Homo sapiens: one gene and its partners. The protein of the gene in region 3 purifies or fractionates together with the protein of the main gene of each other region. This does not show direct contact. Each region holds a gene or a part of one and is shown on either strand. Other genes may lie near its edges.

Region 1 (5,123 bases), on a different chromosome or scaffold from region 3:
AGGAATATGTGTGGTCATTCAGACAACACCTATCGAGTATATGCAGTTGCAAGGAGATAGAGACAGGCAGCTCCACAAGTCCTCAGTGTAGGAGGAAAGCTGCATGCAGGAGGGATTGCAGCCACCTTCCTGGAGGGAGACCCATGAGGGCAGGAAGAGGCCAGGGACCCCTAATAGGAGGAGTTGGGAGAAAGCTTGGTATGTTTGGCAGCAGTTTGATATTCATGATGTCTCTGGCTAGGGAGCAGGGCCTTTCAAGACTGAATGCTCGCTCAGGGCTGTGGGAGGTCCCAGGGGGTTGTGATTGTGGAGTCATTTTTGAAAATGATTCCTTTGGTGGCATTGTTGGGGGATAGACGGACGAGAGCAAGTCCTCAGACAGAAGCTGCTGCAAGACTAAGGGCGGTGGTGAGGGCGTGAAACGAGGTATCAGGAGTGGAGGGAAGGGCACCAAGAGGCAGGTGCAGGCTCTAGCCCGGGCATCTTGTGATAGGAGAAGGCCAGGATAGACCTCCCAGAGAGTGGTGGGTTGAGGCCAAGGAGTGTGTAGTAGAAATTGGGCTACATGGCCATAGGGCAGAACTGGAATGTTTCCATCAGATTTAGAAACCAGAGGCTCATTGAAGACTGATGAGAACATTTCTCTGGGAAGGTGAGGGTCAGGCCTGGATTTCAGTGGAGGAAAGGCAAGGGAATGAGAATAAATACAGGCTCCTCTGGAACAAAGTTTGGCTATGAGGGGAAAAGGAGAGGAACCGCGTCAGTCAAAAGACACACACGTAGGCAAGGGTATAAAGGGGCAGGTCAGAGAGGGAACTCCAACGACTATGCTCATGTGAACAGAGACACCCACATGTAGTCAGGGAAATGCAAATTTAAATAACAGTGAGGTATCACCTGGTACCCATTCAGATAAGCAGAAATTTTAAGGGCTGGTAGTGAGATATTCCATGCAATGCCATTTCTGTATGTTTTTTTTTAAACAAAAGCTGCTTTGTGTTATTTATTGACAAATATATGTAGTGGAAATACAGCATGGCTTAGAAGAACTTACACCAATTTGAGAAGAGCAGTTCTCTCTGAGTAGAGGAGAAGGGAGAATTGGACTAGGGAGGGATCAGAGAGGGCTTTTTGGGCTTTTTAATAGTATTTTATTTTTGAGACATGGTCTTACTCTGTCACCCAGGCTGGAGTGCGGTCACATGATCACAGCTCACCGCAGCCTTGACTTCCAAGGCTCAAGCAATCCTCCCACCTCAGCCTCCCAAGGAGCTGGTACTACAGGCACACACCACCACGCCCAGCTAGTTTTTGTATTTTTTGTAGAGACAAGGTTTTGCTGTGTTTCCCAGGCTGGTCTCGAACTCCTGGACTCGAGTGATCCTCCTGCCTCAGCTTCCCAAAGTGCTGGGATTACATAGGCAGGAGCCACCACACCCAGCTTTTAACTATATCTGATTTGTTTTTCCCTTTAAAAAACATCTGAAGCTGGCCAGTCACGATGGCTCACCCCTATAATCCCAGCACTTTGGGAGGCCGAGGCGGGCGGATCACGTGAGGTCGGGTGTTCGAGACGAGTCTGACCAACTTGGAGAAACCCCGTCTCTACTAAAAATACAAAATTACCCGGGCGTGGTGGCACATGCCTGTAATCCCAGCTACTCAGGAAGCCGAGGCAGGAGAATCGCTTGAACCTGGGAGGCAGAGGTTGCGGTAAGCCGAGATCGCGCCATTGCACCCCAGCCTGGGCAACAAGAGCGAAACTCCGTCTCAAAAACAAACAAACAAAAAAAAAACATCTGAAGGTAAATGTGGGCAGTGTAAACGCATGTTGAATCTGGACGGTGGGGGTTACTCTGGCCTAGGTTGTGTGCCGTATGACTTTCTGAAGGGTAAATGTCCATGCCTCCTCCCAGAGGGGAGCCTTGTGCCTAACTGTCCTTAACAGCTTTTTCCAGGCTATGCCTCATGGGACTCGCAGAGACTCCAGGCTGTGCCACCCTGCTCCCAGCATCACTGTTCGTCAATAGTCACCCAGGTACAGGGTTCTCCTCCTTTAAAGAAATCTGTCCTCTGTCTCCCGAGAGCTGTGTGGGGGTGGCTTAGAGAGAAGTATGGGGCCGCTGCAGAGGCACTGTGGGAGGATTCCCTAAGCCTGTCCCAGGGTTAGTACCAGAAGCATGTGTTTTTTTTACAGCATCTGCCCCTTTTTACCCATCTTGGGCCATTTCAGTCATTTCAGCAGCCAGAGCAGACTTAACACGCATGTAAACCAGCGTGAGCTCAGAACAGATTCGGACGCCCGTGCACATCATTCAGAAAACACCTCTGAAGGTCCAAAGCACCTCAGGTGCTATCAGGGATACTTAACAGTCTGCCTACGTTAAGGCAATTTGACTCCTCCTTCCTGACAGCATTCTGGATATTACATTTCAGTCTATCAGAAAATTAGGATCAATAAGACCAGGGTGAGAGGCCTCTTAAGAGTGTGGGCTTCAGGCAGACCTGGCACGAATCCCAGCTCTGCCCCTTGCCAACTTGAATGGAATGTTGAACCTCTCTAAAGTGGACAGGGCCTTCTCAGTCCACATCCGTGGAGAATTAGGTGAGATCATGCACATTTAGCCCAGTGCCTGGTATTTCATTGCACAGCAAGCTTATGAGGCAGGAGTGTGTCTTACCACCATTTTACAGATAAGGAAACTGAGGCAGACAGTTTCAGAATTTGTCTTACAAAAGTAATTTTTAGTGTTGGAGGTCAGGCTCACAGTACCCTTTGGGGAGGTAGTAATTGGGAAAGGGATGTGAGGGAGGCCTCTGGGGTACTGGATTGTTTTATGTCTTGTCTTGTCTTTTTTTTTTTTTTTTTTTTGAGACGGAGTTTTGCTCTTATTGCCCAGGCTGGAGTGCAATGGCACGATCTCAGCTCACCACAACCTCCGCCTCCCAGGTTCAAGCAATGCTCCTGCCTCAGCCTCCCAAGTAGCTGAGATCACAGGCGCACACCACCACGCCCGGCTAATTTTTGTATTTTTAGTAGAGACGGGATTTCACCATGTTGGTTAGGCTGGTCTCGAACTCCTGACCTCGTGATCCACCTGCCTCGGCCTCCCAAAGTGCTGGGATTACAGGTGTGAGCCACAATGCCCGGCCTTTTTTTTTTTTTTTTTTTTTTTTTGAGATGGAGTTTCACTCTTGTTGCCCAGGCTGGAGTGCAATGACACGATCTCAGTTCACCGCAACCTCCGCCTCTGGGGCTCAAGCGATTCTCCTGCCTCAGCCTCCCAAGTAGCCAGGATTACAGGCATGTACCACCACACCCGGCTGATTTTTGTATTTTTAGTAGAGATGGGATTCTCCATGTTGGTCAGGCTGGTCTCGAACTCCCGACCTCAGGTGATCCACCCGCTTCGGCCTCCTAAAGTGCTGGGATTACAGGCGTGAGCCACCACGCCTGGCATGGATTGTTTTATTTCTTAACCTGGGTGGTGGGTACATGGCTATATTTAGTTTGTGATAACTCACTGAACTGTATCCTTACAATCTGTACGTTCTATCAATGCAAAAGTTTATTTTAAAAAATATTTTTTCGAAGCACAGTGGCTCATGCCTGTAATCTCAACACTTTGGGAGGCCAAGGCAGGATAATCGTTTGAGCCCAGGAGTTCAAGACCAGCCTGAGCAACATAGCAAGACTCCAATCTCTACAAAAAATAAATAATTAGCCATGTGTGGTGGCTCACACCTGTGATCCCAGCTACTTGGGAGGCTGAGATGGGAGGATTCCTTGAGCCTGGGAGGTTGAGGATGCATTGAGCCATGATCACGCCACTGCACTCCAGACTGGGCAAAAGAACAAGACCCTGTCTTAAAAAAAAAAAAAAAAAAAAAAAATATATATATATATATATATATATATATATAGTTTATTTATTTATTTATTTGTGTGTGTGTGTGTGTGTGTGTGTGTGTGTGTGTGTGTGTGTGTGTATATACACACACACTTGCCTGAGATCACATAGCTGGTAGGTGATCGAGGATCGGAGCCACCTTACCTCCAACAGTATACTACCTCCCTGATATCAGTACTATTCGTACTGTAAACACGACTACTGGGAACGTTAACAAAGATGCATTTTCGGAATAACCACTTGTGAGCCAGGCATCCCAGCTGAGTCTCTCTTGCAACCACAAAACCCAGAATGGGGCCAAAGGTATAGACCCTCTGAGCAGCTATGGGCATATTTGGATGTTTTCCGAACCCAGTGGTCCCTGGCCTGCCTAGAAGGCAGCCACACTTTACATTCTCCTATCCCCTTAGCAGGAATAGACCGGCCTGGCATGCTCTGCAGTTTCCGGATCCCTGGTGCCTGGTCCTGTGCCTGGTCCCTGAATATCCAAGCAAATAACTGCTTCAGTACAGGTGAGCCTGGCTCCCCAGGTGCCCAGAGAAGAGGCCTTAACAGGCCTTAAAACCCCATGTAGTTGTCCCTCTCCCCAGACTACATGTGACATAATCTTACCAGCCCATCTCTGTCTCCGCCAGGCTTGTCTCGGCGGGTCCTGTTGACCAACGTGGTGACGGGACACCGGCAGTCCTTTGGGACCAACAGTGATGTCTTGGCCCAGCAGTTTGCTCTCATGGTTGGTTGGATTGGGACAGGCAGAATATAAAAGTTTGCCCCATGTAGAAATTTGGCCAGATTGAAATTGGACTCCTCTGTGTGCCATCTAGTACTCTTTGACAGGGGAGAAAGAGCATCAGAAAGGATCAGTGGGTTCCTTTGTAAGGGTGTCTGAGCCGAGTGAAAGTTGGTTGATCCAGAAAGGCTGGCCTGAGTTGCTCTACACAACCTCTCATGGAAAGGTATTGTGAGCAGTTCTTGGGTACTTGGATTTACCCAGTAGGACAAACCATTTTTAAAATGTATAAGCCAAACACCAATTCTTCACAGCTCCCAGGTTATATATTTTATATGTTTAAAAAATCAGGCCAGGTACAGTGGCTAATGAATGGCTGTAATCCCAACACTTTGGGAGGCCAAGATGGGTGGATCACAAGGTCAGGAGTTCAAAACCAGCCTAGCCAAGATGGTGAAACCCCTTCTCTACTAAAAATACGA
Region 2 (5,123 bases), on a different chromosome or scaffold from region 3:
GTCACTTTAATTTTATTCACTCTAACTTTATTCATTTTAATGTTGTTTATAAAATAACTCTATTAGGACAGAGACTTTGACTATTTTAAGTGGTATCCCAGCACCTGTAAGGAGATCTGGCATATAGTAGTTCAATAAATCTTTCTTCAATAAGTGAATGCACGTAAGTATTTAGCTTCAAATTCAGAGATAAGTGAAAGAATTTTTCTAGCAAAAGCAAAATAATCTAAACATTTGTCTAATTACCTTTTTGCAAATCTGTTTCATTGTGACTTCTTCCAAGTTAGCACTGGCCAGTAATTTCTTTATTGTTTCCTTTAACTCTTCATCTGTAGGGGGTTTCTTCAACTTTTTAATTAAAGGTTCATCATCTGAACTATCCTCAGACTCACTTTCTAAAAGTAATATAATAATAATAATTTTTCTTACATAGTAAATTAACATTTAACAAAGGCTGAGATGAATTTTAAGCTTTCAACAGATTCTCAAAGGGGTACTGGATCAAAAAAATTATAAATCACTACTCTACAGTTACCTATAAAACATGCATACAAATTTTAGTCAATTTGAAAAATCAAAAACTATAAAAAACTGGTATACAGGTTAGGCATCCCTAATCCAAAAATCCAAAACCTGAAATGTTCCAAAATCCAGCTTTTCAGAGCACCAACATGACACCACCAGGAGGTAATTCCATACCCGACCTCGTGTGACGGGTCGCAGTCAAAACTTGGTTTCAGGCCAAGGGCAGTGGTCCAAGCCTGTAAACCCAGTGCTCTGGGGGGCCAAGATAGGAGACTCGCTTGAGTCCAGCAGTTCAAGGCTACAGTGAGCTGTAACGGCACCACTGCAATAAATAATTTATTTAGTTAAAATATTAAACTACCTTCAGGCTATTTAAGATGAATATGAAACATGAATGAATTTCATGTTTAGACTGGGTCCCATCCCCAAGATATCTCTCTCTCTGTCTCTCTCTCTATATATATATATTGCAAAATCTGAATCACTTCCTGTCCCAAGCATTTCAGATAAGGGATATTCAACCTGTATTACTTCTCCCCGCAATGTTCTCTGCAGTTTACCTGTTTCTCCCACACACTTAAATACTATGTACAACATATTAATATATGCTATATCTTTAAAGTTGCTGATTAATGTTATTTCTAACATACCTTTTTTGGAACTGTTTTGATTCTTCTTGGTGGTGCTGCTATCTGCTTTCTTAACATTGGCACTTTTCACAGATTTTTTACTTTTAGAAGTAGCTTTCTGTTTAGGTTTTTCTCTTTTGGCTGTCTTTTTTGGTGGCTGTTACAAAAGAAAGTAAAAGTACACATATTGATGAGATTCAATGCTATCCCATCCCATCCCTCTACTTCCCCTATGCCCCTTAATAATATTAGAGAAAACCAATATATTTGGTATCAGCAATTAAAAATTCTTTTTGAGAGATGACTAATATACAACAATTTTATCCCAACACAAGTCTAAGCATGACAAATCACAATCACACACACACAAGAGTTGCCCATATTTATTCAACACTATGGATAAACTACATATGCATTACTCTACTTAATCTTGGGGGGGACCCCTAAATATAGATAATATTATCTTCTCTTATTTATGTTCTCTCTCTTTCAACTGGAATCTTTTTTTTTTTTTTTTTTTTTTTTGAGACAGAGTCTTGCTGCGTCACCCTGGCTGGAGTGCAGTGGCCCGATCTTGGTTCACTGCAACCTCTGCCCTCCCGGGTTCAAGCGAATTCTCCTGTCTCTGCCTCCCTAGTAGCTGGGATTACAGGTGCTCGCCACCACACCCGGCTAATTTTTGTATTTTTAGTAGAGATGAGGTTTTGCCATGTTGGCCAGGCTGGTCTTGAACTCCTGACCTCAGATGATCTGCCTGCCTTGGCCTCCCAAAGTGCTGGGATTACAGGCATGAGCCACCACACCTGGCCTAGAATCTTGTGTTCACTGATGTTTCCCTAACTCCTAAAATAGTCTCTGGTATACAGTAGTTGCTCAATAAATACTTATGACTATATGAGGAAACTAAGGCTCAGTGTGGTTACCTTGTCCACAGTCACATTAATAAACATGCAAGATTCAAATATAGATGTGACTCCAGAACTTGTGTTCTTAAACACTAACCCATAGGTGATTAGACACAAACAAAATACATAAATATGGATAGATTAAAATGACAGGCCAGGCATGGTGGCTCATGCCTGTAATTCCAGCACTTTGGGAGGTCAAGGCGGGCGGATCATGAGATCAAGAGACTGAGACCATCCTGGTCAACATGGTGAAACACTGTCTCTCCTAAAAATACAAAAATTAGCTGGGTGTGGTGGTGGGCACCTGTAGTCTCAGCTACTCAGGAGGCTGAGGCAAGAGAATTGCTTGAACCCTGGAGATGGAGGTTGCAGTGAGTGGAGATCATGACACTGCACTCCAGGAGAGAGACTGTCTCAAAAAAAAAAAAAAAAAGACAAAATCAGAGTTCATACTTTGTCTCATGTGGAGCCTGTGAAATTAGAAAGCATTAATTCTTAGTTTAATTAATGTTCCCAAAGGAAAAGCTTCCTATTAAACATTCCAAGATATTTTAAATTCTCCCATTTACACACTAAAACTACTGCGATCACTTGACAGAACGTTTCTCCAAATGTTTAACACTCTTGATTCCTGAGAGTTATCCTAAAGCAACCTGGTTTTTTTTTTTGAGATGGAGTCTCGCTCTTGTTGCCCAGGCAGGAGCAGGAGTGCAATGGCATGATCTCGGCTCACCGCAACCTCTGCCTCCCGGGTTCAAGTGATTCTCCTGCCTCAGCCTCTTGAGTAGCTGGGATTACAGGCATGCGCCACCACACCCGGCTACTTTTGTATTTTTAGTAGAGACGGGGTTTCTCCATGTTGGCCAGGCTGGTCAGGAACTCCCGACCTCAGGTGATCCACTCACTTTGGTCTCTCAAAGTGCTGGGATTACAGCCGTGAGCCACTGTGCCCGGCCAAGTCAACCTGTTTTTAAAGACATAAGCACTGTGTTGAACCTATCCTTTAGATTAAAGTATACACATCAATCTGTTCCAAAAGTGGCCTCAAGCTATTCATTGGATTTTAGTGTCTTTTTTTTTTTTTTTTTTTTTTTAAAAAAAAGAGATGGTCTCGCTATGTTACCCATGCTAGACTCAAACAATCCTCCCACCTCAGGCTCCTGAGTAGTTGGGACTACAGGCACACACCACCTCACCTGGCTGGATTTTAGTGTTTGTCTTTCTTTTTGCTAATATACCATCACTGTACCTATTTATACAAGCCTATCATCACCCTGCACTACCTCAACAATATACCACTGGCTGGGAAGCATGTAGTTTAACTGCTACTAAAAAATACATTTTTAAGGTGTCAAGGGGCTGACATGCTTCTAAAAGTAAGTACATGAATTTCCCATGGACTTTTGCGATTTACAGGCCATTTTAACTTACTTCCTAATCCTAAGAGATGTTCTAGATGGTGTGGGGCTATGGGACAAGTATCAATGATTTGTCGTTTTTTTATGACGAACTTAAACTAAGTTTTAAGGTTCATTAAGTGTCCACCCAGTTCATGTGAACTATATATTAGGCTCTGAAAGGGAATCCTAAAAATTCTTAAGTTCTTTAGCACACTTAATACACAGAATACAATAATCATGATTATATATCATTTTTTAGTTAAACGGTAATAAAATCTGGACTTGCAGGTACAAGAAAGTAAGTTATTACTGAAAGGGTTGAAGGTTGAGCAAAAGAAACAATATCATCAATAATTACTCAATCTCCATTCAAATTAGAAAATCAGAATTAGATAACTAAAATACTTCCAAAGCCTTTTAAGGCTTGCCATTAAAATTTTAGATGTGATACACAACATGACATCATTTTAAAACCTGCAAATTGTGAGTAGTGACAGTTTGTCAAAGCATAAACATTTATAATAATAAATAACAAGCCATCTCCATAAAATCTTACTTCTGTATAACAAAACCACATCTTTCTACATTTCATATCTGCTGTAAAGGATAATGTTCTACAGTTTTTCTAAACGGACAACCAGGCCTGTCATCTATTAAAATTTCTAAAAGACTGCAAATATACTGCACAAGCACTAAAGAAAAATATACGACATAATAGTTCAAAGAGTACAGGCTCTAGCAGCAAGCTGCCTGGTTTCAAATTCCAGCCCCAGTACATCTCTGGGCCCTTGTCTCATTTACAAAACAAAAGAAACAATAGTTCCTATGGTTTTATGGGGAGTAGATACATTAACAGATGAAAAGTATTTTTGGTAGTACCTGGCAAATAGTAAACACTAAATATTAACTATTATTACTGAGTGCTTCCTTTTGCAGAATGAGAAATTCTTTGATTATGCAAATATAATTTCCTCCAATAACTTAAACTTTCTAAGTGTTTTCAAAAAGCAGGGTGCAGTGGCTCAATCCTGTAATCCCAACACTTTAGGAGGCTGAGATGGGAGGATCACTTGAGGCCAGAGGTTCAAGACCAGCCTGGGCAAAATCAGAAGACCCTATCTCTAAAAAACTAATTTTCTTTTTTTTAAAAGCAGGGCAGATACACAGACTGGAAATTATAAACACAGTGAGACAAACTCAATAACAACTGTATTAACTAGCCATGATATATCGCACTTACTTCACTACATTATAGTAGATACGACATGGCCCGCAAACATCTATAGTAATACGTCATGTCATTTATACAGAATTTCATTTATCTTTAGCAACCAGCTGTAAATTCTTCTGTGACAAAGTTAAGGTAGGAATTTGGTAAAGTCTCTTTTTTAGATTAATGCTGAGTTAAGAAATCATGAAAGCTGAACAGTAAAACTACTAATGAATTTGTATCTTGTGCTTTAGTCCTGCAGGTTTTCATCACTTCGGCTGCCCTGAAGGTTATTAGGTATAGGAGGAATAGGTCTCTGGAAAATGGGGGCATCTCAAAGGACATACCTTGGTATTAGGACACAATGGACAATTTTTGTCTGTCAAGGTAAATATGGGTAACCAGAATTTGGAGGTAACAGAAAAAAACACAGGGAGAGCTGACAAGGCAA
Region 3 (5,123 bases):
TTTGGAGATATAGAACTGCAGCAATAATTAGAATTATGAAGTCACTGATGGGACAGTGATGTCAGAAGTGCAGTAGTACCTTGTAATGAGGCTGGCCATAAGAATCAGAAGCAACTGGAAATGGCTGCTTAACACACAAAAGAACAAAACCAAGAGCCTTCTACTAGTCACTCTCAATGGTAAGCCCTTTGCAGCCTATCAGTGGAAAGTGCCAGAGTATCTGGGACTTGTTTAAGGATGTGCTATTTAAATTTTTCCGTGAGCAAATTGGGCTTACAGCGAGAATACAGAAGACCTTGGGGCTGTCACAGGGTGTTTTTTCCTTGCTGGAGTACTGAGTATTTCACAACTGAGTCCTCTGACCTGGTTGGTACTCAGCTGTTGGCACTCGTTATCACCCTTTAGGCTTTGTGGACCTTTTTAAAGCTTTATTTTTTTAATTAATCAACTTTTTTTTTTTTTTTGAGATAGAGTCTCGCTCTGTCAACAGGCTGGAGTGCAGTGGCGCACATGTGTGACCTGCCCCACTCTTGACATCCTGCCCCACAGTGGCACATTTTGTTTGTGAGTCCTTTAGCCTTTTAGAAGTTGTCCTAAATAAGACATTTCTTTAAGAAAATGAAGATAATCATTTAGTGTGGTAAAAAATTAAAAAAAAAAAAAAAAAGGAAGTGTCAAACCAACCCCTCCTTCCAAGAGGGCTGTTAAAAAATAAAGGTCGGATTCCTCTGGAGAAGGTTGCTTCTGCCAAGCTCAAGCCCACCCTGCAAGTCATCATGCACTTAGAGGCTAGGCTCCTTCCCCGTAGGGAGCTAGGAAAGAAGGGAAATGATACTCACTGAGGTATTGGCTCTTCTCCATTGGGAGGGTGGGGGAAGGCTGTCGTTCTCAGGGAAAGAAGTATTAGGTGAACACACCCGGATCCTAAGGGTGACCCAGCCTAAAAGCTCAGGGCTAGTCAGCTGGGGGGCAGAGAGCCTGGCTGGGGCTGTCTCTCTCTGGCTCCAGGTCTGAAGGCACAAGAAAAGGAAGCTTCCTCCCCACTTGAGCACACTGTGATTCCTGTGTCCTTTTGACTATGATGTGGTCTTGAAGTTTTGTTTGATGTTCATCACTACAAATCATACCAAACAAATGTAAACACAGGACTATACTACTCAAAAAGCATTATTTTAATGCTTTTTAAAAAATTCCTGAACAGGCAGTAGTAAATGAAGACACCCAAGGAAATGTGAGCCAGCTCCAAGCTGAAGTGAAGAGGCTCAAAGAACAACTGGCGGAGCTTGCTTCAGGACAGACACCACCAGAAAGCTTCCTGACCAGAGGTAGGATGAGCACACAGTCCTTTATCTTGGGGAAGACTGTACAAATAATAGTTTAAGAGCCCTTGGTGATAGACACAACACAATAAGGCAACCCAAATTTTTCTGCAGGTATCTCTTTCTGCTTATTTCTCCTATATAGGAACATAGTGGTTTGTTTATAATCAGATACAGATACCATAGGCAGTGAGAAGGGGGAATTAAAATAATTTTGAATAATGTATAAGTGCTAAAAAGAGATTAATTTCATTTAGATCTACTTCTACGTAGCATATGTAATCTATATATGTTTACTATAGGATAAGAGAGACTTATTTTTCTTCAAAGAATAGCTAGTAGAGAATTAATTAACTGGAAATCCATAAAGGCAAGAGGGTGAATTATTAACAGATCTTAAGAGGTGCACAGCACCCTGGGACTCCTCTAATTTTTTAAAAAATCTACTTCTACTTCTGTTACACCATGTGTAATCTATTGTGCATATTAACTAAATAAAGAGAAACTTATTCTTTGAAGAACGACTAATATGTGGAATGGTTAATTTGAAATCCGTGATCTAGTGATGACGGTCTCATTGTTTTTTTTTTTTTTGAGACGCAGTCTCTCTTTGTCACCCAGGCTGGAGTGAAGCAGTGTGATCTCAGCTCACTGCAACCTCTACCTCCTGGGTTCAAGCGATTCTCCTGCCTCAGCCTCCTGAGTAGCTGTGACTACAGACCCACGCCACCATGCCCAGCTAATTTTTTTGTATTTTTAGTAGAGATCGGGGGCGGCGGGAGGGGGGGGTCTCACCATGTTGGCCAGGCTGGTCTCGAACTGCTGACCTCAAGAAAGATATCCGTCTGCTTCAGCCTCCTAAAGTGCTGGGATTACAGGCATGAGCCACTGTGCCCGGCCACAGTCTCATTCTTTTAGATTAGTTGAGAGCAATCAATTAAAGGCTATCTGTTCTCTTGGTTTTGCAATGTGATAAATATTTTTTTTCATCTTCCCTTTCTTATTGGATCAATTACAGACAAAAAGAAGACTAACTATATGGAGTATTTCCAGGAAGCAATGTTATTCTTTAAGAAATCTGAACAGGAAAAGAAGGTAGGAAATGGAATTAGTAATAAAGGAGATTCAAGATAGTTAGTTTTTTGCTGTGTGGTTTTTATTGCCTTACTAAGTGAAATAAATAATACCAAGTCAATAAAGTAATGGAAGGCTATGAAAAATCAAATTTTGCCTTTAAGATTAAATATGAAATTAGTATTTGTTGCTGGACTTACGAAAATTTAGGGAAGTCAAATTATTTTTCATGTTTAACCAAATTATGAATTTCTTTAAGTCTCTGATAGAAAAAGTTACCCAATTAGAAGACCTCACCCTCAAAAAGGAAAAATTTATTCAATCTAATAAAATGATTGTGAAATTCCGAGAGGATCAAATAATACGCTTGGAAAAGCTCCACAAGGAATCCCGGGGAGGTTTTCTGCCTGAGGAGCAGGATCGTTTGCTCTCAGAATTAAGGAATGAGATTCAAACTCTGCGAGAACAAGTGAGTATACGGCATCTATAATATTTCTAAAAATAAAAGAAGTTCAAAGCAAATCTAAGTTTGTCAGCAAGTACTTGTTCTTTAATACAATGGAAATTGTTTTAAGTGAATTCTTCTGACAGTGTGATTGCATAATTCCTTTACCTGTCTTTTTAAAATAGTTAAAGGGAAGAGAAGGGGAGAAGGAAGAAGTTGTGGTGACATTGCTACATAGTATGCTACTCTAGCAGGCCACGCAGAATTTCACCCAGTGGGCAGTTGTGGTTATCTGAGTCAGTAGGCTCTTTAGGGTTGTGCCTTTTAACGTTTTTGTTGTTTTTCCTTTTCCTTAGGGAGAATGGATAGGTCATACAGGTACATTGTGGGAAAACCCAAAATCTCTTATCAGCTTCTTGTTTATCTCTCTGGAGTTTTTAATGAATATTCAAACTAATATGGGTGGATATTTGTACTTTTGTTTCTCCTGTACACTTTTTTGCACTTCGCCTTTTTCAGTTAATCTTGGTTGACAAGATTAATTTGGTCCTTGTTCTTTTCAGTGTGTTGATTTAACTAGTCTCCTTTGCATGAAAAGCCTGCCACAATGTACACCCTTGTGCTTACCTCCTTAGGTGGGTGAACATTTCAAGGGTCTAGACTCCAACTGAGAATAGGAGAGTTACAGGACATGCATATTTTCAAACTGATCACAAATGCCAAGTTGCTTTCCATGGTGGTTGCAGAAGGGTACCACCAGTAGTGCATGTGCATACCTAGTTTTCTAATGGCTTTTTAGAGGAACTAATTCACTAAGGAAATGTTTGTAAATATATAATGCGTGTAATTCTTCTATGTCACAGATAGAGCACCACCCCAGAGTTGCAAAGTATGCTATGGAAAATCATTCCCTCAGGGAGGAGAATAGAAGACTGAGATTATTAGAGCCTGTGAAAAGAGCTCAAGAAATGGATGCCCAGACCATTGCAAAACTAGAAAAAGCTTTCTCTGAAATAAGTGGCATGGAGAAAAGTGACAAAAGTAAGAAATGATTGTTGTATATACGTGCCATGTAGGAAGGGGCTGTTTTAAAGAGCATTTTTAGTGCCTTGTGACTAGGGTCTTCATTTTAGCCTCCAGGCCTGCTATGCTAATGTCTTATACACATATTCTTTTATATTATAGAAAGGTATTTACTAAACTTTTCTTTTTCTCAAAAATCACAGAGCATAAACTACGTAAGCTAATAGATATAACGAGAAAATACTCATTGTATTTGTTTTATTGATAAAAAGATTGATTCAGATACTATGTTAAATTTTTACTAAATTTTCCTGTTTAAAGTATTTGAAATGAAAAGTCTTTAACTAATCAAACGTGAATAAAAATAGAGTTGAAATGTTTATCAATCTAATTAGTCCTGTGCAGTATAAGAGATATAGAAAGGTCAGACTCATAGCACAGTGTTTGGGTCCTGATGTTGTGTTTGGGTCCTGGTATTGTGGTTACCAATGTATGCAGTCTCTAGTTACATACTACTTTCATAAGTTTGCATACTATGTGAAAAGTGGTTTAGTTAATACTAAATCTGCCTTACAGTCTTGACAGCTGTTGGTGTTCATACCCTGGGATTTGGTAACAAAGTCTGTGTTTGCCCCAGTCTTAGAGTTAATATTTTCACGGTCTTTTATCATAGACTTGGCCTTGGTTTCCTTTTAGGTTGAAATTGAAAAAGTTCTAATGTTTTTATTCTGCATTCATAAAGAAGACTGTCTCTTTGCTTTTTAAAATTTCATTTTTTAAGCCTTCTTCCATTCTGTTATGACTGAATAGAATAATAAGAGTCACAGTAACTGGGTTGGGGAGAGACTTAAGATATTAGATGCAAAATTACTATCAGGTTTTCTGTTGTTTTTTTTGAGATGGAGTCTCACTCTGTCACCCAGGCTGTAGTGCAGTGGTGCGATCTCGGCTCACTGCAACCTCCACCTCCTGGATTCAAGCAATTCTCCTGCCTCAGGCTCCCTCCTGGGATTACAGTCACACACCACCACACCGAGCCAATTTTTGTATTTTTGGTAGAGATGGGGTTTCACCATGTTGGCCAGGCTGGTCTTGAACTTCTGGCTTCAAATGATCCACCCACTTCGGCCTCCCAAAGTGCTGGGATTACAGATGTGAGCCCCAACGCCTGACTTAGGTTTTCTGTTTTATTTAAACTACTTTTCCCTACAGTGCCCTTTATTTTGTTGGCCATTTTGTTGTGGCCTCCATAATACCTTGAC
Region 4 (4,735 bases), on a different chromosome or scaffold from region 3:
GGGTGACCAGCTGGTTCTTGAAGGAGTCACACGACGCGGCTGTGGAGTAGGAGCAGACGTGGGGGCCACCAACACAGTGAGCACCCAGCACGGAGCCCGAGTGTGGTCTGCACATGGATTCTCAGGGAGGCCCCACATGCCAGCCTCAGTTCCTTCCCCAGCATTCCCCTCCCTCCCGGTCCAGCCACACAGCAGCAGGGCTGCCTAGCCCCGCCTGTGCAGTGACCCACCTGGTGGGAAGGGCAGGTCCTCTGTGCACATACGCGGGCCCAGGAACGACTCCAGGGAGTAGGTGACCCCCTTTACCTGCTCCACCTCACAGTTCTTCACCTGCCCAAAGTTGAGGATCCTTCCATCCGATGGGCTAATCTGGAAGGGCAGGAGAGGCTTGCTGCCAGGGAGAGCAGGGTCTCCTCCCCCCAGGAGACAGCCCCCACCTCCCCTTGTCATCCTGCCCCTTCCAGATACGCTGGAGACCAGGGGGGCTGTGCTGGGGAGGCAGGAAAAAGTCCTGTTTCCTGCAGGAGGAAAGGGTCAGGCCTCACCACGCTGTGCAGGCCACAGACAGGCCGGGCCTGCGGCTTCAGCTTGCGCCGGAAGAACTCGCTGAGGTTGCGGTAGTGATGCAGGTCCTCCACAGCGGCCTCTTTCATGTTCACCCCAAACGTCCAGATGTACAGGCTGTAGACGGGCCTGCGCAGCCAGTGTGGCAGCTCCACCTGATTGAGGCGACCCCAGGCCCGTGACAGCAAGCGCGTTGGCACTGACTTGTACAAAGCCACCTGCAGGCCACAGGGCAAGGGGCTGAGTTGACCACACTGCCCCAGCTCCAGAGAGCCCAAGTAGTGTCATTAGCCCAGCTCTCACTTCAGGGGAGAATCTGCACCCCACGGAGGACACCAGGGCCCAGGTGCCCCACGCTGCTTTTGTGATGTGGCTGTTTCTCACTGGGAACCAGACTGCACCTGCCACACGGAGTGCTGGATTTACATACAACTCCAGTGGATTTCATCATTTCATGCAAAAGTCAAATAGCAACTGCTCCAGTCCCAGAACGGGAGACGCCCAGCAGTCTTACTTCTTAAAGTGGGGGTCGGAAACGGATCTGATCCTAACCACAGTGTGTGACCCTAGCCACGGTGACCCCAATATCACAGTGTGTGGAGAGGTGGTGGGCATCTTGCCCGTGGTCACTGCCCATATCCCAGACCACCAAAGGAGGAGGCTCCCAAGTGCATGGAACAAGTCTACAGCCCAAAGTGTGTCCCTCTGTCTTAACAGGAAGAAGGAGGATACCCTGAGCACCAACAGGGATTTTCAGATGCAGGTCTGCGATGTCACTGTCACCTGGGCCTGAGCTGCAGACACAGGGTCTGCAGCCCCCACAGGTCCAGCCAGCACTCTTGAGGGCCTGGATGCAGCCAGTCTGAGAAGCCCAGCCCTGCTGAGCCCCACCTTGGCCCCACGGCAGGACTTGTGTTCAACGTTCTACTGTGACTGAGCCAGGCCATAAAGCCATCTGCACCTGGGGTTCCTCCCAGGAGGCAAAGAGAAGTCATCCCCTCAGGCCCCTCTGTTCTCTCTTCCTTCAGGGAAGCCTGGAGCACCTAAGACAGACGATGGCCTGGGGACAAGCACTGGGTCCCACTAGATGGTCCCAGAGCTCTCCGGCAGGGCCAGGTACCCAGGAAGGGGCAGCCTCTTAAACTTCAGGTGCTGCTGCCACTGTAGAAGCTGCCTGTAATTGGTGGCTGCTGCTTCTCTAAACACAACCAAGACACCAACTCCCCAAGGTGTAAAACTGATTTCATTCCAACTTTCAACACCTCTCCAAGGTAAGGTAAGCTCCCAGAGAGCTGCTCTTATCCCTTCCAGCTGATGCCCAGTCACACAGAAGGGCTATGTGAGCCCAGGCCCTTCCCAGGCACAGGTGGGAGCCTGGGCTAATGTCCAGGGTGCCTCAGTGCCCCTGAGCTCTGATGACACCCATGTGACTGTCAAAGGCCCAGGAACAGGGTTTCCTCCTTGGGGTCAACCTGCCTGGGAAGCCAAGGGCAAGAGCAAGCCCTCTAGGGACCAGGAGAGGACAAGCCAGTTCCCTTGCCCATTCCTGGGGCATGCCTCTGGGTTCCTTAAGGGTGTCCTCACCCTAAGGGACCCAAACAGGATCCATCCATCCTGAACCACCCCTTTGGCATCCCGGAATTAATTTGGCTTCTGTTCAAAATCACCTATAAGCTCTTTTTTGCTTGAACACAGAAAAATCAGAGACAGACACCATTTTCTGAATCCCCAGACTGGGTTCCTTCCAGAACCAGAGCCCCAAATGGCAGACATGAGGCAGGCTAGGGGAGTGGGCAGGGCACGACATGCCCTCGCAGTCACCCGCGGCCCAGGTAGTGGCCTTCTCAAAAGCTGCCTTGGCCTTGCCCACCAATGAACCTTCCGACCCGGACCCCCTGAAGATGTAGCGGTGACCTCTGCTTCTGACAGCTCGCCACCACCTCAGTCTCTCCTGCACCCCAACCTCAGGCCTGCCCGGAAGGGAGGTCCGAGCCACAGGGGCCTGTGCACACTTACCCTGCTTACGGGCCTCCATCCCACCCGGCTGAGCGGTCTGAGGGCGCCGAAGGGCAGGAGGTAGTAGAGGACGGTCAAGGGCCAGGAGCGCAGTTTCAGAGCGGGTCTGGACATGCAGCTCAGCTGCCCCAGCCTCCGCCTCAGGGCCAGCTGGGGGAAGTGCAACCTGCAGGGCACAGGTCCATGCACAGCCAGGTCAGTGGCCAGGCTCTGGGCAGGACCCAGGAGGCTGCCACCTGCACCCAGGGCAGGATTCCTCCTGTCTACCCACCCTTGGCAAGCTGCCTCTCCATGGGGGTGATGGAGCCCAGCAAGCACTGGCTGTGCCCCCTCGTCCCAACCCCATTCTGATTCAGGGGCTTGGCTGCCTCTGGCTAGCGGACTCATTTCCCAGGCTCTCCCACCCGCCAGCCAGCTGGGGAGGACTGGGAATGTGGGGGCAGCCGCAAGAGGAGAGTCAGGCCCAGCTGCGGGGCACCTCTCAGCTGCAGCAGCTCCCAGCAAGGGCCTCCAGGCCCAAGCACCTGGGCCCAGGAAGGGGAGAGCAGGGTGTAGGGCCTGCCTCACATCCCTCAGCCTCCGCAGCCCAGGAGAGTGGGCCCCAGGGGCCAGCTCTGCCACACAGGCACTGGCACGGCAGCACATAGCGCTGAGGAGCTACGACCCAGCCAGCTGGGTAACCATTTGCTGAGTCTTCCGCTACCATCCTTTGCAGGATCTGGGATATCCTTTTCATGGTTCCAGGCCCCCCCTTTCCTCATCTGCTAAATTACGGGGCCAAGGCCAGACAAGATCTCAAAGGGAGCATTTACACTCCGCCTACCACCACCACACAGCTACGGCTCCATCCATCTGCATGGTCTTTCTATAACAGGCCAGGTTCTGAAAACCCATCCACAGGTTTGTGAACAAAACCTCCCCACCACAAGCTCTCAAGCCACCTGTCTGCTCTGCTGGGGCTGCACAGACAGACACACACACACACACACACACACACCCATCCCAAGCCCCTCCTTTCAGCAAAGGTGGACACACACACACACACACACACACACACACACACACACACACACGAGACCCAAGCCCCTCCTTTCTGCATCCAGCCTCTCTGTGATCCGGCCTCTCCCCACCCTCCCAGCACAAATGCAGGGCACTCAGCAGGGGCTCAGCTTCACCAGAGCCGCAGAGGCTGGACGGGCCTTTCCACCACAACCCTGGCCTCCTGCGCCTAAACAAGGCCCACCCCACCCTGTCTGTGCCTAGGCCTAGCAAATGCTCCTGAGGCCCAGGGTAGCCAGCAGGAGACCACACTGCCATCCACTCAGAACGTCCCCAGGTCTCAGTTTCCTCATCTGCAAAGTAACTGCATTTAGCTAATCTACGGCTGCCATCTGGGACTGTGCTCTCAAGAGAAGCTGAGTCCTCTCTCCCAGTTGCTGAGCAAACCAAGGAACAAAGCAGCATCTCAGCTGATAGCAGCAGAGCAGACGGCAGGCGAACCAGTGGCGAACCCCGCTCAGGCTCAGGCTCAGAGCTGGCTGCATCCACGCAGCTCCCGGGTGCCTACTTTCTCTCCCATCGCACCCCGGTGTATTTTTAAAAGGTCCAGGAAGGTGGCAGGGGCCAAGCAAAGACAAATCACTGCTCCCCTCTGGCTTTGCCACCTGCCCCACTCACTGCAGAAGAGCAGGGACCAACTGGGAAGAGCTACACCCCTCCCATGGGCAGGAAGGGGAATGGGGAAGCCTCTCTCCTAGGTGGGGTGCAGAGGCAAGGGTCTGGGCTGCGAGCAGGGGGCCTGGGAGCACCAGGGTAGGGAAGATCGCAGGCATGAGGTCTGAGGCTCGCTGGCAGCCTCCCCCTGCTGGGCCCTCCTCATGGTTGGAACCAAAGATACCTGAAGCGGGCTCTCCGACTCAGGGTGCTCAGGCCCCCCAGGCCAGGCTCCTCCAGCCTCGGGGGCTGACCACCAGTCCCCTTGCCGCCACCTCTACTGCGAGGCCGCTGGATGTGAACTCTGACCTTCCGGAGGTCGTGGCGGGGAACCGTGGGGTTAGGGCGCGGTGGGCAGCATCTCACCATTTCGCCGCGCGGAGCTCTGGTCCTTGCCGCGCCTCTGACTGACACATCATGGGCCGGCGCAGGGAGGGCGGGG
Region 5 (3,960 bases), on a different chromosome or scaffold from region 3:
CTTTCTAAATAACTGTAAACTTTAAAAAATGTTTTCGCTTGCAAAAACAGAAGGATATAATAAAATGTAGAGTGATTTGGAGTTTCCAAGTATTTTCACATCCCTTATCCAATTTAATTTTCTTGATAACCCAAAAAGAGCATTATCATTAAACCCATTTGATGGACAAATAAAGTCTGCTGGGATCAACTTGCTGGGGATCCTGGACTGTAAGTCATTCTTCTGAATCTTAGTGTGGTGCTCTACCAGGCAACACTGTTCCGAGTAATGCAATTCTCTTCTTTTCCTTATTTAGTCAAAGTGTAATTGAATTAAATACTGGAGAAAGTATAAAAATTTAAAGCTACATAAAGTTAATTTTAGAAAAAAAGGTTAGATGATATACTGAAGTATCCTATTGAAAAGCCTGGCTCTTGGAAACCCATTTAGTAGAAGAAAATATAACACTTAGAAAAGCAGAACTCTCTTCCTTGAAAATATATTTAACAAATTCTTCCTATGTAATGAAACTGTTAGGGCCGGGCATGGTGGCTCACACCTGCTAACCCCAGCACTTTGGGAGGCCGAGGTGGGCGGATCACCTGAAGTCGGGAGTTCGAGACCAGCCTGACCAACATGGAGAAACCCCGTCTCTATTAAAAATACAAAATTAGCCTGGCGTGGTGGTGCATGCTTGTAATCCCAGCTACTTGGGAAGCTAAGGTAGGAAAATCACTTGAACCCAGGAGGCGGAGGTTTGGATGAGCCAAAATAGTGCCAGTGCACTCCAGCCTGGGCAACAAGAGACAAACTCTGTCTCAAAAAAAAAAAAAAAAAAAAAAAAAGAAAAGAAAACGGTTAAGTAATTATCAGCATAATTTTTATATAGCTAGGTGTCATAACTGTATTTTTAATTTTACCACACAATGTTATCCTTAGCTGTACCTATTAGGAAGGCTCAGTATCCAACACATTAGTAAAAAGCTAAAGTAATATTCAAAGCTGTAGAGAAACTTAACAGCAAGGATTGAGAGCATACCCTCAGACTGCTACCTTGTTCACATTTTTACTACCATTAATCTGATACATTGCTGTGCTCCACAGTGCTAAACACCCATCTTAATTAATAGTAGTTCTATTTAAGCATAGAAATGTCTTTTTTTGAAAGTCAGAAGTGAAGCTTCTGTTTACAAGTTTACCATATGGCAGACTGAATTATTTTTCCTACCCTACTGCTCTATAAAAGTAGAAGTAAACAGTATTTGCAATAAAATTCAGGATTTAAAACTTTTTTATTGCTAAAATCAAGTTGCCTTCATACTATCCCTTTTGTGTGGTTATAACAGGATTTATTCCTCCTCAGCTTTCATCTCTTTACCTCTTGACCACACTATTAACTACCGAAAAAAAACCGCAGCTGTACACGTACCTAGGTTTTAAAATCATACACTGAAAAACTAACTAAAATTACACTCCTAAATAACCTAAAACTGCTTCAAAGTTATATTCAATATTTTGAAATAAAAGCAAGCGCCCCAAGATGAGAGGTGCAAATAAATTATAGAAAGTGTATTTTCAGGCTTTCCAACCGCGAATGCTCTTTGTTTCTAACTGGAAAGGAGGAGTTAACAGAAAATAGAACAAGAAGAAAAAGTATGACCTTAGAGACACGTCACTTTACTTTGGTTGACAGAATTTCGTATATAAAAACATCTTAAATTGTACTTCCTCCCAAGCTTAAAGTCCTTAGAATGAGAAAACCGAAAGGCGAACCCAAGGCCAGCACATTTTATTTCCGCTGTCCCAGAAGCGCGCTGGGCGCACCCGAAGCTCCGCTCCAACAGCGCCGCGCCGCGCTCTCAGCAGCGCCTCCCGCTGGCGTCTCCCCACCCCACACCCAGGTCGCCGCCTCTGGCACACCTGGACGGCCGCAGGTGACCGGCGACCCACTCCGAGGATCTGGTAGAAACCGGCCAGGAAACCACTCCCGCCCGGAGGAGCGAGCCACTGTCAACTGGCCCGGAGGGACGTGCCCACTGCCAACCATGGGAGAGGAACGAGCCTCTGTCACCCCTGCCGGGTCACCCTGCCCTGAGGGGCGCCCACTGTCACCCCTGCCGGGAGAGGCGTCCCCATGGTCACCCTGTCCTGAGGAGCGCCGTCGCTTTCGTCCCTCCAGGTCCCCACTGCCACTCTGGCCGGGAAGGGCGTCCACTGTTATGCCTACCAGGAGAGGCGTCCCCAGTGTCACCTTGGCCAGGAGGGACGCCCACCGTCACCCACTCCCTGAAGGGGACTCAATGTCACCCCTGCCTTGAGGGGCGCCCACTGTCACCCTGCCGGGAGAGGACACCCACTGTCACCCCCGCCCTGAGGAGCGCCCACTGTCACCCTGCCGGGAGAGGACACCCACTGTCACCCCCGCCCTGAGGGGCGCCCACTGTCACCCCCGCCCTGAAAGGCGCCCACTGTCACCGGCTCTCTACGCCGTCCGCTTCGGGGTGTGGCGGTCCGGGAGGGATCCGGGTGGGGCCCCCCTGACAAGCGCACCCTCTCGCCTGGGCCCCGGCCCACCCGCTGCCCGGGGCCACCGCGTCCTCGCGGCCGCCCTCGTCGCGGACTGCACGGGTCGCAGCCTCCCGGGAGCCCCTCCGGGTTGCGGGGTTCGGCCTGCGGCGCTCGTCACCTCATGAGGTAGTCCCGGAAATCCTTGCTTCGGACATAGTCCGCCGCTTTCCGCACCAACGCGCCCGCCATGGCTGTGCCGACACCAGACCCCGAGTGGTCCCTGCCTCTGCTGCCGCTTCCCAGAGCCAATGACACCCCGGCCAACCCCCCGGCAGCCGACGGCGAGCCAGCCCGAAGGCCCGCCTCACGACACCCGGCCACGCCTTACGGCCGCGCCGCGCCGCCCGGCTCTCGGCCAATGACAGGGCGCAGGGCCAGAGATGGTGGCGCGGACTGGCTGGCTCGTGCCGCACGCCTCCTTCCCGCCCTCGGTGGCGCACGGGGGCGGGGCCCGCTGCCGTAAAACGGCTGGGGCTGGGCCGGGGCTGGCAGGCGGTTGCTAGGCTCCAGCGGCTCCCGGCCAGCGGGGACGTGGAGGTGACATTTCTCTGACCCACAGGACTGTGGGCGCCCTGCCGAGCGTCGCGCGGTCTTGGGGCGACCTGCAGTGGGGCCCCTGCGGCGCAGCGCGCGGTGGGACTGGCCGGGTTCCCGCGCCGCCCAGGGCCTGTGTCTGCGCCGGTTCCTGGCAAGGGCACCTTGGCCGGGCGGCCCGCGTCCCCTGCGCTTCCCACACCCACGTGGGCGGACCCGGCCCGCAAGCTGGGCCAGCCTGCGGTTTCCGGGCACTGGGGAGTGCGCAGAGCCCCGGGCCAGCGACCGCAGCCGGGGCCCCTGGCTTCTCCCGAGCACTTTCCCCCGGACCGGTCCCTCCAGGGTGGCGGGCGGCACCCAGGGCCGGCGCTCCTCACCAACGCGCTGCAGCTACGGGCTCAGGAGGGAGCCGCAGCGTCGGAGGAGGAAAGCATTTAAGAATAGCACAAAGCCTTAGGCTCGAGGAAGCGTGACTGCTTACGTGTTGAAAATAAAGGTTCTGTAAGTCCCACCGCGGGTGCATATTGAAAAGAAAGGGATCATTAGCACGCGACCCTCGCCTAGGAGTATATAAACCGCAGCACGACTTTCGGATCACAAAGGCAGAGAAAAGAACACATTGAAGGCTTTTGCTCACTTTTCCAAGTTGTTTCGTTTCGTTTTGTTTCTAATGTGGACGATCATTTAAAATGCCTCTGGTGGCCGGGCGCGGTGACTGACGCCTGTAATCACAGCACTTTGGGAGGCCGAGGCGGGCGGATCACCTGAGGTCAGGAATTCGAGACCAGCCTGGGCAATACGGTTAAACCCCCTCTCTACTAAAAATAAAAAAATTAGCTGGGCGTGGTGGCATGTGCTTGTAGTCCCAGCTACTTGGGA
Region 6 (5,123 bases), on a different chromosome or scaffold from region 3:
GCGTCCCTCCTCCCGGCCCGGGCCCCTCGCCCGTGGCCGCCCCGGCCCCTTTTGCGGAGAGGCAGAGACTCCGCGCGTCGCCATTTCTGGACTAGGCTGCTGCTTTCTGTGCTTTTTCTGCGGGCGCCTCTGCAAACGGCGGCGCCGGGGACCGACCCCCCGCCCGGGCTCGGGGCGCTGCTGGCGTGTCCCGGGGTTCCGGCCTCGAGGTGTGCCCGCCAGGGCTCTGGAGGCGTTCAGTTGCATTTGGGCCGGGGGACCGGGCCGGAGGGGCTCGGAGGACATGAGAGCCTGGCTTCGGCGGCCTTCGTCTTCCAGGTAACGGGGCCGCTCCACCTCCCACCGCCCGGGTAGCGCGGTGCCAACGGCAGCCCCACTTCTCCGTGGGCCGCGCCGCCCAGCCCCGCGGCTCGAGGCTCTGGTCGGGTTCAGCGTGCACCCATCCCAGATCCGGGGTCCCTGGCTTCTCGCCCGGGGTTGCACCCCGTTCAGCCCCTACCCTTCTTAGTTTGATCTTTTCCGTGCTAGGGAAAGCAGCTTGTTTATTGGTTAGATAAGACTTTTTTCTTTGGAAAAAAGACAGGCTTGAAATCAGTAGAGTTTGGGATTCTTGGCACAGGCAGTAGTGGCGTGAGACGGCTGGTGATCCAGTTTTGTAGGTTTCGCGGATCCGGGAGGTGGGTTGGGGGCACGGGGGCGACGGTTCCGAGGCTTCTCAGCTCTCTCTCAAAGTTTGAAGATGAAAGTCTCCCCTGAGTGAGTTGGTTTCTGGTTTGGGGGGAGGTCAGGGAAGACAGAGGTGTTGACTGAGCTGGATTCTTGGTGGGGGTAGGGGGCGCGTAGCGAACACTCAAATCTGAGTTGGGGAGGGGGTGTTTGCGTGCTGAATCTGGGAGTCCGGGAGCCCAATCCGCCTATGCTGGGCGGGCTTCTCTTGGGCCAGGATCTTCTGAATTTTTAAGGAGTGGGAAGAGGGAGCGCAGAGGGAGGGGGTGGGTGGGGAGAATGGGAACCAGATGCCGGGGAAGGGCACGTTTGGAGCTCGAGTTATCTGTGCAGGGCCGAGTGGGGAAATATACCGAAATTGGTTTCACCTGCACACAGCCTAGCGGCTGGGAGTGCGCCTTTTTGGAGTTGATGGTATCGGGGGAGGGGAAGGGAGGGAAGGCGAGGCGCGGGCTGAGCTGCCCTGCGTGCGCCCTGGCCGAGTGGGTTTTTGGAAGGTTGTGTCTTACACCTCCAGTGTCCCCCTGCCGTCCCCAGCTCTTGCCTTCCTCTCACCTTCCCCGCCTCTTTCCCAACAGCTCCCTCCCACCCCCAACCCCGAAAAGTGTGCAGGGAGCTCAGATTTCGCTTTTGAAAAGCAGCGCCTGATACTTTAGATGAGCACCTCGCAGATAGCTGGGTTGCTTGATTTGAATTTGAGGAGTTGAAAAGCCTGTTTACTTTCTTGCTTTGATGTTGGGTAGATCTGGTTTTGATTAGATCAATACCCTTTTCTCTCTCCCCACCTCCCCCCTTCCTTTTCTTTCCAGAGAGGAGGTTCAGATGAGCCCCTGCTGACTTGAGAGAGACAGAGAGACCACGCCGATTGCTGAGAGGAACTGGAAGAAGAAAAATTCCCAGACTCAGTGGGAAGAGCTCCCTCACCATGAGTAGCGCTATGTTGGTGACTTGCCTCCCGGACCCCAGCAGCAGCTTCCGTGAGGATGCCCCGCGGCCCCCAGTGCCAGGGGAAGAAGGGGAGACCCCACCGTGTCAGCCAGGGGTGGGCAAGGGCCAGGTCACCAAACCCATGCCTGTCTCTTCCAACACCAGGCGGAACGAAGATGGGTTGGGGGAGCCGGAGGGGCGGGCATCTCCGGATTCCCCTCTGACCCGGTGGACCAAGTCCTTACACTCCTTATTGGGCGATCAAGACGGTGCTTACCTGTTCCGAACTTTCCTGGAGAGGGAGAAATGCGTGGATACCTTAGACTTCTGGTTTGCCTGCAATGGATTCAGGCAGATGAACCTGAAGGATACCAAAACTTTACGAGTAGCCAAAGCGATCTACAAAAGGTACATTGAGAACAACAGCATTGTCTCCAAGCAGCTGAAGCCTGCCACCAAGACCTACATAAGAGATGGCATCAAGAAGCAGCAGATTGATTCCATCATGTTTGACCAGGCGCAGACCGAGATCCAGTCGGTGATGGAGGAAAATGCCTACCAGATGTTTTTGACTTCTGATATATACCTCGAATATGTGAGGAGTGGGGGAGAAAACACAGCTTACATGAGTAATGGGGGACTCGGGAGCCTAAAGGTCGTGTGTGGCTATCTCCCCACCTTGAATGAAGAAGAGGAGTGGACTTGTGCCGACTTCAAGTGCAAACTTTCGCCAACCGTGGTTGGCTTGTCCAGCAAAACTCTGAGGGCCACGGCGAGTGTGAGGTCCACGGAAACTGTTGACAGTGGATACAGGTAAGACTTTGACGGGGGCGGGTGGGCTGATGCTGTGGACTTTGCAGATGTTTTAAGTATGGTGGATGGGTGGATGGGTGTGCTGCAGAGACTGACAGGTCTGTTGAGTTAGGACTGCTGGCCATGAACCCTTTTTGATCTTGCTTTTTGTTGTTGAAACAGGGGGAAAGCGATGCACATACAGTAAATACCTGCAGTCTTCCAGTGCTGACTTCAAACAGTGGCAAGCAGTATTCACTAATGTGGGTTACTTATTATCCCGGGCTAGTGTCTCAGAAGAGGTTGAGAGAGAGAGAGAGGACAGCAGCTTTTGATGCCTCTGAGTCACCAGATCCACTAAGCGCCGGTTTTGGAAGGGGTCACTTCACCACTAATCAGTAGAGGGTGGAATTAATGTGGCTAGGGAGGCAGCTGGGTTGTGGTGGAGGCACAGGAAATAATATGTGCACCCATTGAGGGGTAAGTGGGATTTTTTTTTGAACTTTTCTGTTAAGATAAGAGCCAGCAATTGGCTTAACTGAGCTTGTGGTTCCCTTTGTAGAATTAGATATTTACCCAGCAAGAAAGGCCTCTAACTAGGGAAGGTCCTGTGACTTTCCCAAATGAAGGACCCTTACCTTTAGAGCTTGCTGGCATATTAATCCAGGTTTTAAATGCTCATGAGTCCGAGGGTCAGACTTCAGTTGATTATTTTGTTAGTGCTGATGGAGAAGAGATCTTGGCCCGGGAGTACTGGGGCCCTGGAGTACTTTCTCTTTGAGGCTTCAAAGACAAATAGTTCTTTGCAGAATGGCCAAGTCTTAAGATTCTTGACCTTTGGAGGCAACTTCAGACCTCTTGTTAGAATGAGTTTTTCTGTTTTCTCCCCTCCTCCCGACTTCCAAATATCCGAAAAGAGAATGAGCCTCTTAATTCCGGGGTGTGGTTTTATGACAGGCAGGGGATGGGGCTGCACTTGACTGCTCTCTGAATGATTTATCTTGCTCTCTGTGTGAATTTCTCTGTGTGTTAGGGGCCCAGGATGCGGTCTGATAGCTGCCTCTGGATTTCCCTTTCTCTGTAGGATGTGGTCTCTAGTGCCCAGCAGCAGGAAGAGAGGTGGGCACCAGATGGTTGATCTTGAGCCTCTCAGGGTGGCCAGGTCTGAGCCTAGCGGGCCATGATTTTAGGGGCGGCAGAGAGAGTTGACTGTTGGCGAGGAGAGGAAGGGCTTGTTCTCCAACCACCAGGGGGCGCGCTTGTGGCTTGGGAACCAGTTTTACTCAGACATCTGGTCTACACCTAAGTGGAACCAGGTTGACTTTTGCAAGGAAACACAGGTTCCAGGGAGGTGTTTCAGTGTCTTTATGCTTGTGGAGTCAAGTTGTCTGGGAGGAAGATCCTGGGTCTGGCCTCTGCAGTAGGTCAGTCGCCGGGCACCTGCTACGCCTGCCCGCCCCATTATGAGACCATTTGGGTAAGCCTCTGGCGCTGGCCTCCTTGCCCTCTAGCCTGGCAGCCAGAGCTGAGACTACTTAAGAGCCGTGGTAAAGGCTGCTTCTCCAGGGGCCTCCTGACTGGGGCTTCTGTGTCTCCCACTGCCGGGACCAGAGTGTCACCTTCGTAAATAGCACAGTGTGTGGTTTTGGACGCCCTCCCCAGGCAGGGCTCTGCTGTGAACCCTCCCCTTTGTGGGTGGGCAGTTGCGACTCAGCCTGGGCTTGCCTCATCTGGGATATTACCAGGATGCAACTCATGAAGCTTTTGAGATCCAGAAGGCAGGGACAGAAGCTCCTGTTTTCCAGGGCTGCCTTCTTGGCTGTGAACCGTGGACATCACTGATAAAGAGGTGACAGCTTGTCATTGACCTGAGAGTTTCCATACGAGATTCACGTGTGCCTTCTCCCACTGTTGGGTTGAGATGAAGCATCTTAAAGGACTCTCTGAAGCTCATATGTCTTAACTGGGCATATTTAAAGAGAATTTAAGACATAGCCAGATGATCTCACATCATTTTAACGTGCAAGATATTCGAGTGTGTGCACAGTGTATGGAAAGGTCTGCTGACTCCTTATTCAAAGGCTTGCATTCCAGCCCGGTCCACCACTTACTGCTTGGGTGTTGAAGCCTTTCTGAATGGCATGTGCCCATCTGTAAAATGGGTGGGCACCATTCCTTCTGTCTGTGTCATAGGATTGTTATTAGGACCAAAATAATAAACATGAAAGCCTTTTGTAGAGAGAAACGTTTTGAACCGCCGCAAAGTGTTATAATTAGTATAATTAGTAATGATGATGTAAATAGGACAACCAGGTTGGGATGTCACTTTTAAAGGGTGACTCTTGGCTTAGCCCATTTTCCATTGTAAGGTTTTAGAGTGGCCCCCTGACCCCCATGCCTCAACTTTCTTATTGAACTGAAGTCTGTTTTTCCAGCTAGTTCTTGGAATGTAGAGATCCCATCTAAGGTTTAAGTTCCCCCCTTCCCTCTCCCGCACACTCACTCATTCTGCAGAGTACCTGGCATCTGGGATGGGCTTAATAAGTTAGTAAAATGAATGGAACAGAAACGTCAGTGCTGCTGAGGATGGTCTTTCTTCATCAGCTGCTGAGGAGCGGTCTTGGCAGCCGGATGCCTGGGGCACTGGCCAGGCTTGCAAGCCCTGTGTTTACCTCGGG

What was found.
Region 1: the proteins of KIF15 (region 3) and DCAF4 purify together in Homo sapiens (co-immunoprecipitation; one large-scale study listed by IntAct). This does not show direct contact.
Region 2: the proteins of KIF15 (region 3) and DEK purify together in Homo sapiens (affinity purification with western blotting; one study listed by BioGRID). This does not show direct contact.
Region 4: the proteins of KIF15 (region 3) and PISD purify together in Homo sapiens (affinity purification with mass spectrometry, with the first as the bait; one large-scale study listed by BioGRID). This does not show direct contact.
Region 5: the proteins of KIF15 (region 3) and MPC1 purify together in Homo sapiens (affinity purification with mass spectrometry, with the first as the bait; one large-scale study listed by BioGRID). This does not show direct contact.
Region 6: the proteins of KIF15 (region 3) and AXIN2 purify together in Homo sapiens (affinity purification with mass spectrometry, with the first as the bait; one large-scale study listed by BioGRID). This does not show direct contact.

What each region holds. Positions count from the first base shown.
Region 1 is NC_000014.9:72,949,840-72,954,962, forward strand, and holds part of DCAF4 (DDB1- and CUL4-associated factor 4), read left to right. Parts: intron 1-1,958; coding exon 1,959-2,038; intron 2,039-4,321; coding exon of another isoform or gene 4,322-4,324; coding exon 4,325-4,423; intron 4,424-4,546; coding exon 4,547-4,644; intron 4,645-5,123. UniProt on the Homo sapiens protein: May function as a substrate receptor for CUL4-DDB1 E3 ubiquitin-protein ligase complex.
Region 2 is NC_000006.12:18,236,206-18,241,328, forward strand, and holds part of DEK (protein DEK), read right to left. Parts: intron 1,312-5,123; coding exon 1,176-1,311; intron 396-1,175; coding exon 247-395; intron 1-246. UniProt on the Homo sapiens protein: Involved in chromatin organization.
Region 3 is NC_000003.12:44,799,113-44,804,235, forward strand, and holds part of KIF15 (kinesin-like protein KIF15), read left to right. Parts: intron 1-82; exon of another isoform or gene 83-176; coding exon of another isoform or gene 177-179; intron 180-1,201; coding exon 1,202-1,325; intron 1,326-2,337; coding exon 2,338-2,414; intron 2,415-2,652; coding exon 2,653-2,862; intron 2,863-3,701; coding exon 3,702-3,879; intron 3,880-5,123. UniProt on the Homo sapiens protein: Plus-end directed kinesin-like motor enzyme involved in mitotic spindle assembly.
Region 4 is NC_000022.11:31,621,104-31,625,838, forward strand, and holds part of PISD (phosphatidylserine decarboxylase proenzyme, mitochondrial), read right to left. Parts: exon of another isoform or gene 4,713-4,735; coding exon of another isoform or gene 4,660-4,712; intron 2,747-4,659; coding exon of another isoform or gene 2,581-2,746; intron 783-2,580; coding exon 546-782; intron 429-545; exon of another isoform or gene 370-428; coding exon 231-369; intron 40-230; coding exon 1-39. UniProt on the Homo sapiens protein: Catalyzes the formation of phosphatidylethanolamine (PtdEtn) from phosphatidylserine (PtdSer). Plays a central role in phospholipid metabolism and in the interorganelle trafficking of phosphatidylserine.
Region 5 is NC_000006.12:166,380,141-166,384,100, forward strand, and holds the start of MPC1 (mitochondrial pyruvate carrier 1), read right to left. Parts: upstream 2,801-3,960; 5' UTR 2,737-2,800; coding exon 2,666-2,736; intron 1-2,665. UniProt on the Homo sapiens protein: Mediates the uptake of pyruvate into mitochondria.
Region 6 is NC_000017.11:65,555,149-65,560,271, reverse strand, and holds part of AXIN2 (axin-2), read left to right. Parts: exon of another isoform or gene 1-756; intron 757-1,535; 5' UTR 1,536-1,651; coding exon 1,652-2,466; intron 2,467-5,123. UniProt on the Homo sapiens protein: Inhibitor of the Wnt signaling pathway. Down-regulates beta-catenin. Probably facilitate the phosphorylation of beta-catenin and APC by GSK3B.